2 separate regions of the Homo sapiens genome follow, and region 1 is linked to region 2. A link means that fine-mapping ties the variant in region 2 to the expression of a gene that starts in the linked region. Tissue or cell type: whole blood. Region 2 holds a variant in brackets; the other region holds the start of a gene. All regions are shown on one strand. Distances are from middle to middle.

The links. PIP is the estimated chance that this variant, and not a neighbour inherited with it, causes the effect.
Region 1: PLXNA4 starts here. The variant in region 2 is fine-mapped to the expression of PLXNA4 in whole blood (TOPMed, PIP above 0.99). The same link has a PIP of 0.9 or more in CD4 T cells.

What each region holds. Positions count from the first base shown.
Region 1 is chr7:132,573,694-132,578,717 of GRCh38, reverse strand. It overlaps PLXNA4 (plexin A4), which reads left to right and starts at 2,248. Exons shown (of 32, transcript NM_020911.2): 1 at 2,248-2,296. RefSeq lists enhancers at 1,809-2,786, 2,787-3,764.
Region 2 is chr7:132,459,056-132,464,079 of GRCh38, reverse strand. The region is part of intron 3 of PLXNA4 (plexin A4); the gene reads left to right. Among named protein-coding and RNA genes, the nearest start is that of PLXNA4-AS1, 110 kb to the right of the region's middle. The variant A/C (reference allele first, on the strand shown) is at 2,759.

The DNA of each region.
Region 1 (5,024 bases), 110 kb before region 2:
CATGTGGTTTCCTCCTCATTCTGGCTTGGTTCATCTTCTCATTGGTGAGAGCAAAGTTTCAGCAGGGTCCTCTCTGGGTGGGCCAAGCCTGACCTATATGTGCCGCTCACCTTGGGGCTTGTTTAAGCTGTCATCTCACAGCTCCTTTCAAAGGCTCCCCAATTCACACAACTTCGATTTCTGTGAGAATATAACCCCTATAGGGAGGTATAGGCATTTAAGCCATTATCAGTCATGTCCACCTAATAAGGAGGCTCTGAGATGTTTCGATGGGAGGGACAGTAATGGGCGGGAGTTTCTGGGTGTGAGGACAGTGAAAACTAAAGAAGGGACAGGAGAGAGGAGGCCAAGAGCCATGGGCTCCTTTAGAGGGTCGTCCTTGCTGGTTGCCTATCCCAGGGAATGCTTACTGGACTCTGCTGAAGGTGCCACTTCCCTCAGACTATGGTGGGAGCGGGTATGAGGATGAGGGTGGCATGCACAGAGTTGAGTTAACAGGTGTGGGAATCCCTTCGGTTTCTCTTGGTGGGTGGGCCCATTCCTAGGGGGATCTAGGCAGAGGTTTGGGAGGTAGTGCCACCCACTCCCCATCTTCACTGCCTAAACCAGAGCTACATGGTGATTTCTTTCTTTGGGCTTCAGAAACCACCCTGATGTTGGCATGGTCTGTTCTGGATGTAGTCTAGGATCTAGGGTTTCAGAGAAGAGAGGAGCCAGGAGAGCCGCTCAGTATAAACATGAATGGAAAAGTCAGGTTACCAAGCCAGCTCTGGGGCACTGGCCACTCATGTTCTCTCGTGCGGGCCTTGTGCCCTCAGTGTCCTCGGCCTCCTTGGGTGCCATGTGGGGGTGACTTGGTGGGGTGTTGGGAGGGGTTCTGACTAGCAATGGGTGTATGCCTCAGAGTCAGTGTGCGCTTGTGTCAGCTCTGAGCACCTGAGGGTCCCTCCGACGGCCAGCGCCCAGAGCTGCAAATTCCGAGGCGGCTGAGCGCCTCCCTCTGAGCGCGCGCCGTGCGCTCCGGTCACCCATGTATGCCCCTCTCTCCGCCCCACATCGCCACCGCCAGGGTAGCTCCGTGCGGGCCGAGGGGACCCAGGGGGGTGTCGGCAAACGTTGGTGCGGAGGAGAGCCGGCAAGCCGGGCGGCGGCGGGTGGGAGCATGTAGGGAGGCGCCCCCTGCCCCCTCTGCCGGCCGCTCTCCCTCGCTCTAGATGTCAGCCGCGAGCTCCGAGCCAGCGAGAGCGAGCCAGAGAGGGAGCGGCGGCGGGCGGCGGGCGGCAGGGAGGAGAGGAGGCGAGGCGAGGGAGGGAGGAAGGGAAGCAGGGAGGGCGGGAGGGAGGAGAGGAGGACCCAGAGAGCGCCAGGCAGCTGGAGTTTTTGCAGCGCTTGGCCGGGCTTCAATGCACAGCAGCAGCGAGCCGCGGCGGCAGCAGGCAGCCCGGGAGCTCCGGCGGCGGCCGAGCCAGCGGCGGCCCCGCTCCCTGCCCCCTGCAAACTTTGCGAGCAGCCCGCCCGGGGGGCCGGGGGCGCGCCCGGGAGGCCCGGCTCGGCCCGCGGCCGAGCTCTCCGCCGCCGCAGCGCCAGCCGCCGCAGCCACCACCGCCGCAGCCCCGCGCCTCCCCGGGGAGCAGCCGGCGGCTCCCGCGGCCCCCCAGCCCCGGCCCCAGGGCACTGCCCGGCGAGTGTCTCGGCAAGGGTGGGGGCTGCCGCGGCGCGGCCGGCCGCGGGCTGCCGGGGGGCGGCCGCCGCTACCCAGAGAGGCGCGCAGAGGCGCCGAGAGCGCTCCCCGGCGGGTCCCCCGCGCACTCGCCGCGCCCGGGCAGCGGCCCGACCGGGCGAGCATGGGCGGCGCGGAGTGACGCCGCTGTGCCCGCTTGGCATCAAGGACATTCAGCCCGCGGGGGTGGGGACGAAGGGGGGCAGCCCGGCGTCGCCACCGCAGCCCCCGAGAGCCGCCGCCGCTGCTCGGGCTCCGGGGCTGGGTGGAGGAAAGGGGTGTTCGGAATCGATCCCCATTTTCCGACCTTTTTGTTGGACATTACGCCCACCTTGGACGCCGCAAGAGAAGCTGTCAAGCCCCGCAGGCTCTGATTCGGCGCCCTCCGCGTTCCTCGGCTGCTCCCGGCTTCCCTGTGCCTCGGTGGAGTATTTGCGTTCGGGGCTGGGGCTGGAGGAGGCAGCCACACGCGCGCACACGCACACGTTCAGAGGAGGGCGAGAGGCAGCGGCATAGGCTCCATCTGCAGTGTCAATGCGGCGCTCCCGCTGAAGGAGGGAAACGCGGCGCGTCCAGGTAAGGAGCCGGCCCGCCGGGGAGTGGGGCCGGGCGGGCGGCGAGGGCAGCAAGGTCGGACAGACCTGGGCCGACCCGGGAGTCCTCAGTGTCCCGGAGCCAGCCCGCGGCACACGCACACGCACACACGCAGGCACACACACAGATCCACACCGGCACACACGGCGCTCGCGCACCTGCCCACGTCCCACCTGGACGCCCGCGGAGGTGCAGCGGCCGGAGCAGGGATTTCCCGGGTGTGTTCTCCTCTCACGCTCCTGGACTCAGACTTCTCTTTCCCGGGACTTTCGGGGTGGGATTCTGTGTATTCCCGGCTCTGCCTCCCACCCGGGGAGGTTGAGGGAGCAATTTTTCAGCTCCCAGCCCCTTTCGTCCCTAGCTGGGCTTTAAAATGGGAGAAGTCCTGAGAGGTTTCCGGAGACCTACCCAGTGTCATCGCGGCCCCGTGGCCTTTGGACACCCTGGGATTTCAACGGGAGACAGACCCACAGATATTCGGACGCATATTTGGAGAGAGTGGTGGCCCAGCGCCCGGGGAGGAGGCCAGATAGGCGGTTGGGGCTGCAGTTCTGTAGGGCGGCGCATATGAAACAGACACTGCGTTTCCCCAGTAAGAGGCAGCACAAACGCCTTTCTGAAGCGTGGCACTGCTTCCCCGGGAATGCGCCGAGATTTCAGGCAGAAAGCGGCTTAAAGCATCGCCGCGTATGTTGCTTGTCTAGGGAAGGTACGGGGGTCAGATCCTCCTTAAAAGGTAAGACCTTATTCACAGCCTCAGTGCCTGCTTAGCAGCAAGCAGACAGGACTTGGAGACACAGGACTTGGGTCCCCTCTCACCTCCCTACCCTCCCTGGGCACATGGGGCTGCCTTCCCCGGTGCCTCCGGCTGGCGAACACCTGTCACATGCCTTTCGTGGTGTGTGTCTGAGAAAGAGAACTAGAAGGGGGAAGCACGAGGGATATAGTCCTCCAAAAGAGGAGGCTCCCCTCCCTCACGACCGTGGCGGCACTGCCCACCGGAGAAGGCAAGGCATTCGTGGGTCTGCCAGCGTCCCCCAGAGCCCAAGCCTGCTCCGATTGTAGAATCACTCCCCAGACGCCCGTGCTTTAAGGTCCTATTTCCCGAAAGCATTTTCATTCTTGTTCTCTCTGGCTGGAATTTCACAGGCTGCTCATTTTAACTTTTTCTGGAGGAGGTAGGAAGTGGCTGGGGTTCTAAGAGGCTTTTCCATAGTTCCCTTCTTGGGGTCTAAGAGCAACTAATTTAGGGTCTCAGTTGTCATAGGGAGAAGAACATGAGATCCAAATCAAATTCGGAATTGAATATATATGTACAAGCTCCTGTGTTTCTGGTGCTGTCACTTTGAGGTAGCTTTCTAGGCAACATGATCATATCATTTTCCCACAAAACTGAATAAGCTTGTACCCTCTGTCCAAGATCATGTGTTCAGAGTATCCCACAGACCCACCAGTGGAAAAAATATGTTAGGAGCCTTACAGAACATGATGGAAGAGGAGCAAACATTCTTTTGAACAAGGAGGCCTCAGTGCTAGGCTCAGAATTTGGGTTGTTTTTGTAAATCCTGAAGATAGGGGCTGAATGAAAGGGCTTTTTCAGCACCCTGACTCCGCTATTTCCAAACTTTTTTCAGCTCCTGCAAAGGTCTCTGGCTAGGCTGGGGAGAAGCGCAGACACCCCGGGAGGGAGATTGTATTCCCGCTGTGTGCTGTGTGAGCTGCCCTTTGATTGATTGAAAAGCATAGATGGAATAAAGCAAATCTCTCACAATGGAGAGACCCCAGTAGGGGGAAGAAACCTTATTTGCTTTTTAAGAATGGTGGGCGTGTGCACACACACACCCAATATATATACACACATGCGTTCTCAGAGTCTGGCTAAATGTGGTCAGCTCCCCGCCCCCGCCATGTGTGACAATGGGGTCCACCTCTGTCTTCCGGGCTGTGGAAGAAATGGAACATTTCTCCCCACATGCCCCTTGAGGGCGTGGACAGGCAGATCCCACCTACGCGTACAGCAGCACATGGTTTGCAAAAGAAATAATGAGCTCCAGCAACAGTGGGTGCCTCCCAGGTAAACAGTCCCTCATGGGACCTGGAAGAGGCAAAGGGATAGGGTACAGGATCTTCCTGAAATGTCTGTGTCTTCCCTGTAGACCTCCACTCCTTTCTCTGCTTTCCTCCCTACCCTCTTTCCTTTCTCATGTATTCGCAGCCTCAGGATCCATCATTTTAATGCAAAGCTAGTATCATTATGCTGGTTATAAGCTAAACATCTGGGTTCAGAAAATCTCTGCACTTTCTGCACTTAGCATTAGGTACCAATTTGGTTTCTAGGACAAGGCAGGCATTAATTAACATCTCTGTAAAGCGGAGTATACATTACGTTTTCCTGGCTCTCTTGCCCAGCCCTGGAGCATGCCACGCTGTCATTCACCCTCTCTGCCACTCTTCTGTGCCCTTCCTTTTAAGTTCTCTGAGGTCTTTCTCACTGGGAAGGGAGTCACACTAGAAAAACCCCAGCCATGAATGCTTCTTTTCAGCAGACCCTCGCTGCCTGGTAGACGGTGCTTAAGGCAGCTCTCCTGTGAGCACTAGGCATGGGTCACCTACAAGCTGCTCCTTCTTACCCAATCACGCCTCCCCGGGCTCTCATCTGTCCTCCCAGGACTTCCTCCTGGATGCCCACTGGGACACTGCAGACATTTCT
Region 2 (5,024 bases):
CCTAGTAACATTGCAATTCAGAGGTAAGCTCTCCACTCCCCTCCCCTGCCTTTTAGGCAAACATAGGAATTTTATTCATTTTGCTGACAGCCAGCCCTGGTTTCCTAGGCTGGTGTGGGGAGAAGTACTTGGGACCCTGAGATGTATTGGACAGGCTCCTGGGCCTCTGCTCTGTGGCTAGTTTATGAAGGAAGGAAGTTGGGGTGGGTGGAATAGCGATGAATTTAGTTCTGTTTTATCCACTGATGCTGGACTGGAAGGAATAAGATGTCTGCTCAGGAAGCCCTTGTGAGGGGTGGCTTGCAGCATCTTTGTGAAAGAATCAGGGGCATGTGGATTCATAGTCCAGCTGAAAGTAAGAGACAGTGGCCCTCATGGTGTGTCCCCGTAAGCCAGAGGGAAGAATGAGCAGATTAAAAAATAATAGCAGTGAAGTCCACACAAGTTCTGCCTAACTTCCAGAAGGAAGGGGACACATTATTATTAGGGATTCAACAAACGGGCTGGTTTCTAACCCTGGCAGCTTGCCTTCCCATCTATGTAACCTTAAGCAAGTCTCTTATCCTCTCTGGCATCAATTTCCTCATCTGTCAAATGGGCTAAAAATACTTACATCTCTGGGTTGTTGTGAGAATAAAGTACATTGCACAAAGCACACAGTAAGGGCTCTGGAAATTAAAGCTTAATAGTGATTTTTTTTCCTCATGTGCTCTAAGAATACTGAGGGCTGAGTGTGCACTGGTAGATGGAAAATCCAGTTTCCAACCCAGCAGCATCCACTGACTGATCAAACCTAACCTGTGCTGGATAATACCTTCCAAATCCTCTCTGGCCCTTCCTCCTCCCCTGGGAAGAACAATCAGCTTGGTTTCATGGTACCCTACAATTTTTATTTTTTATAATGTTGATTGTTTTTAAGAATTATTACAGGCTGGGCGCGATGGCTCACGCCTGTAATCCTAGCACTTTGAGAGGCTGAAGGGGGGTGGATCACTTGAGGTCAGAAGTTAGAGACCAACCTGGCCAACATGGTGAAACCCCGTTTCTACTAAAAATATAGAAGTTAGCTGGGCACGGTGTTGTGTGCCTGTAATCTCAGCTACTCGGGAGGCTGAGGCAGGAGAATCACTTGAACCTGACAGGCAGAGGTTGCAGTGAGCCAAGATTGCACCATTGTACTCCAGCCTGGGTGGAAAGAGCAAAACTCGGTCCCCCTCACAAAAAAAAAAAAAAAAAAAAAAAATTATAGAAATGTGTGTTATTTGTGGAAAATATAAAACAAGAATAAACAAGAAAAAAAATAACCTGAAATTCTATCATCTTCAAAAAATTATTAATGCTGGGCGTGGTGGCTCATGCCTGTGAATACCAAAGACTTGGGAGGTTGAGGTGGGAGGATCACCTGAGGCCAGGAATTAGAGGCCAGCCTGGGCAACATAGTGAGACCCTGTCTGTACAAAATAATAATAATTATTTTTTTTTAAATAAAAGAAGATACTTGAGTATATCCCTATGCCTTTTTCTCTATGAACCTTAAATACAGACAAAGTTGAGAGTATATATATGTACATATTATGTTTTCATCTCTACTTTTTATTGTGAACATTCCCCTGTGTGATTAAGTACCCTTCAAACATGGTTTTTAGTGGCAGCCTAATATTTCATAGCACAATCCTTGTTTTTCTGTTTTTTGTCTTTAAGCTTCCTGGTTTTCTTTTTGATGCATTTACTTCCTATTTCCTTTTTATCACTTGTTAATTATGCTATGTGGGTTGGACTTTCTCTGCTTTCCTCCCTTTTGGTGATTTGGAAAGTATTCATCCTATTTTAACCTAATAGTGGTTACCCTTAAGTTTTTGAAAGCACATTTAAACCCACATTCCCTAAAGCATCGAAGTTAAGAATTAAACAGTATGATTTTAGTCCTTCTCCTCCCCCTACTTCCAATTTTTATTAATATGATCTAGGTTTTAAGACCTGTATTATTTTTACATTATGATAATTTCAACATGGATTCATCCCTTTCAAACACTGTTTTTGACGTTTCTACTATGTTATAATTGAAATTATACTAAGTATTTGGACAACTTTAATAGCTTTTCATTGCTCATAGATCTGCAACATTGTAAATTTTCCACCTGTGGTTTCTTAATTTTGATTTGTCCCCTAGTAGATCGGCATTTGCCATTAAGACTTTGTTTTTCCCCCATGAAGGGAATAATATTTAAGCCCTTGGATACCTGAGACTGTTATTATGTCAACCTTAAATGTAAATGGAGACTTGACTGAGTATTTTTCTTTCCCTCAAAGTTGTTGAAATGACTCCGCTGTCTTAGAGCAATGAATACAGGAGGGGAGCCTGAGGCCCGTTGGATTTTGATTCCTTTGTAGGTAATCTCTTCATTTACTTTGTCTGAAGGTTTATAGAATTTTCTCCACACATCAGAAACATTTATTAGGATATGGATGTGTGTTGACTTGATTTCTTTTCCCTTGGATTTAAATATGTTCTTTTAATCTATAGCCTCCAGTTTTCAATGCAGGAAAGGCTTTTATTATCACTATTATTATTATCATTCTCATCAAGATGTCTGCTCTGTGATGTTTTCTCTTTGGAGGGCTCCTTGTATGTACATACTGGGGTGTCTGGTTTTGTGGTCCAGATCTTATTTTGTTTTCCTCACTGTCATCTTATTTCTGAGAAAGCTTTTCAAGTGCGTCTGTCACTTTCTTTTTTGCATTATACTTCCTGCTTCTT[A/C]TAGTGAGGTTTTAACTTCAGCCATTCATGCAACCTTACCTGAGGGCAGCTCCTTCCCTCTGGATCAGAGGAAGAGGCCAGATTCAGTCCCACTCCCTCATTTACATATTGTTTCTATTTAGGGAAGCCTTGTTGTACAGAGACCATGTGGCCTCAAAGCCAAGCATATTTCTTCCCTAGCCTTTTAATGGAAAAGTTTGCTGACCCCTGCTTTTGAGATGCTGTTTACTTTGATTTTTTTCAGAAAAAAGTCCTCTTGAATCTTACTGAAAAACGACATTTCCCAGACATTTTCTTTCTTTTTTCCTTTTGGTAAATCTATCTCATAGGAAAATATTTCTTGTGATTATCCTCATCTTTTTTATTTTTTACTTTTTGGGGCTGCAATATCTTTCTGCTTGCTTGGTTGCTTGCTTCTGTTTGTTCAGCCTTACAAAGAGAGGCTGTGTGCAGAGGTACCATGAGTCTAAGAGAGAATAGTGTGAACACCATTCTGAAACGTTTAGGATCTGCTCCCATCCCCCCTCTGCTTTTGTTTTACTGAAAAACCAAAATCATCCTTGTGGTGGGTGATGTGTGGGATTAGCAGAGGGTAGGATTCATTCTTAGTAAAGGAAAGACAGGGAGAAACTGAGGCTTAGAGAGGCTGTGACCACATATACTCAATTTTGAATTTAAATATTGCCTGCTAGGTTTGACTTTTCCAGTCCCACACTTCTCAGCTGGTGGCCTGATCTCCAGTTGTCCTGACTTGATTTGGTTTCCAGCTGGCAAAACATCACCCAAGGTTCTTTGCCACCTGAACCTCTGGGAAGCCTATGAAGCTGTCACTTGAGAAGTGGACCCCACAGAGCCACAGGAGAGAAGGGTGGGCACAGAGCTAATTTTTTCCATGCAGCTATTTTTGAAAATATTTAGAGAAATTACAATTTGAGGTTTTTTTTTTTTTCTTTTTTTGAGACAGTGTCTCAGTCTGTCACCCAGGCTGGAGTGCAGTGGCAGTGGCATCATCATGGCTCACTGCAGCCTCGACTTCCCGGGCTCAAGGGATCCTCCCACCTCAGCCTCCCAAAGTAGCTGGGACTCCAGGTGTGTACCACTGTGCCTGCCTAAGTTTTTAAAAAACTTTTGGCAGAGGCAGGGTCTCATTATATTGCCTAGGCTGGTCTCAAACTCCTGGGCTCAAGCGATCCCCTCAACTCGGCCTCCCAAAGTGCTGGGATTACCGGAGTGAGCCACAGTACTCAGCCAAATGGAATTTAAACAGTTGTATCTGAATTGTACACAGCCATAAGTATTCTTGCTATCGGTTGCCATCGTGACTGCATTGGGTACTGGTATTATATGCTGATGTGTAGGTTAATTATAGGAGGGGCATGGGGAAGAGAAGGGGCGGGGTGGGGGCACTCTTGTACACAATGAATTTAAAAAATCAGATATTTTCACAATTTAGTCAACTCCAATTATCTACACTTCTGGAAGGGAGGTGTGATTTAGATCATCGAAACCGGAAGGTAATTTAAACTTTATTTTCACTTTGTTTTGGGATATTGTATATTAGGATCGAGGGAGCCTCCCCACTTCAGATCAGGCTCGCTGCCCCCAGCATCCCCACCACCAACAGATTTCTCTTCTGGTCTGTGCCTGCTTGGGCTGGTGTTGAAACAAGCCCAGATTTGCTAAAATGCTGCCCATGGGCCTGAATATCTAGGGGAGCAGGAATATGAATTGAAAATGCCCGAGGGAAATAAACCACACACAAACCCAAGACCTGGACCCCTTCCGGCATCTCTAACCTCCGCAAGTGCTGGCCCTGGAAGAATCCACAAAATCAAATTGACTGTAGCCTGCTCATTGCTCTTTGGTCTTTCCCTGGGGTTCCTCTCCTACTGCCAATCCACTTGCATCCAGCTCCTCTTGAATGACAGATTATGATCAAGAAGGCTATATTTCAAATAAGAAAAGGGGTGGGAGATCGTTTCCCCGAATGTAAGATCTTGTTGGTGTTAAAATTAGCAGTGATAACTATTACTGTTCCTCCAGTTCTTACTTTCTGCTTCTTCAGGCAATTTTTAAATTAGGGGTTCTGGTTCAGAAAACTGTCTGCTCAGGGGAATTGATCCTCAGAGCTGCCGTCTTAGATCAGACAGCAGCCCAAAGGGTCCAAATGCTCCACGGCTGGGTGGCAGGAGGAAGAGCGCGGGCTCTGGTTCGGTCGTGCTCTGTAAAGGCACACGGTTTACCTAGGTCTACGTAGATGTGTGTA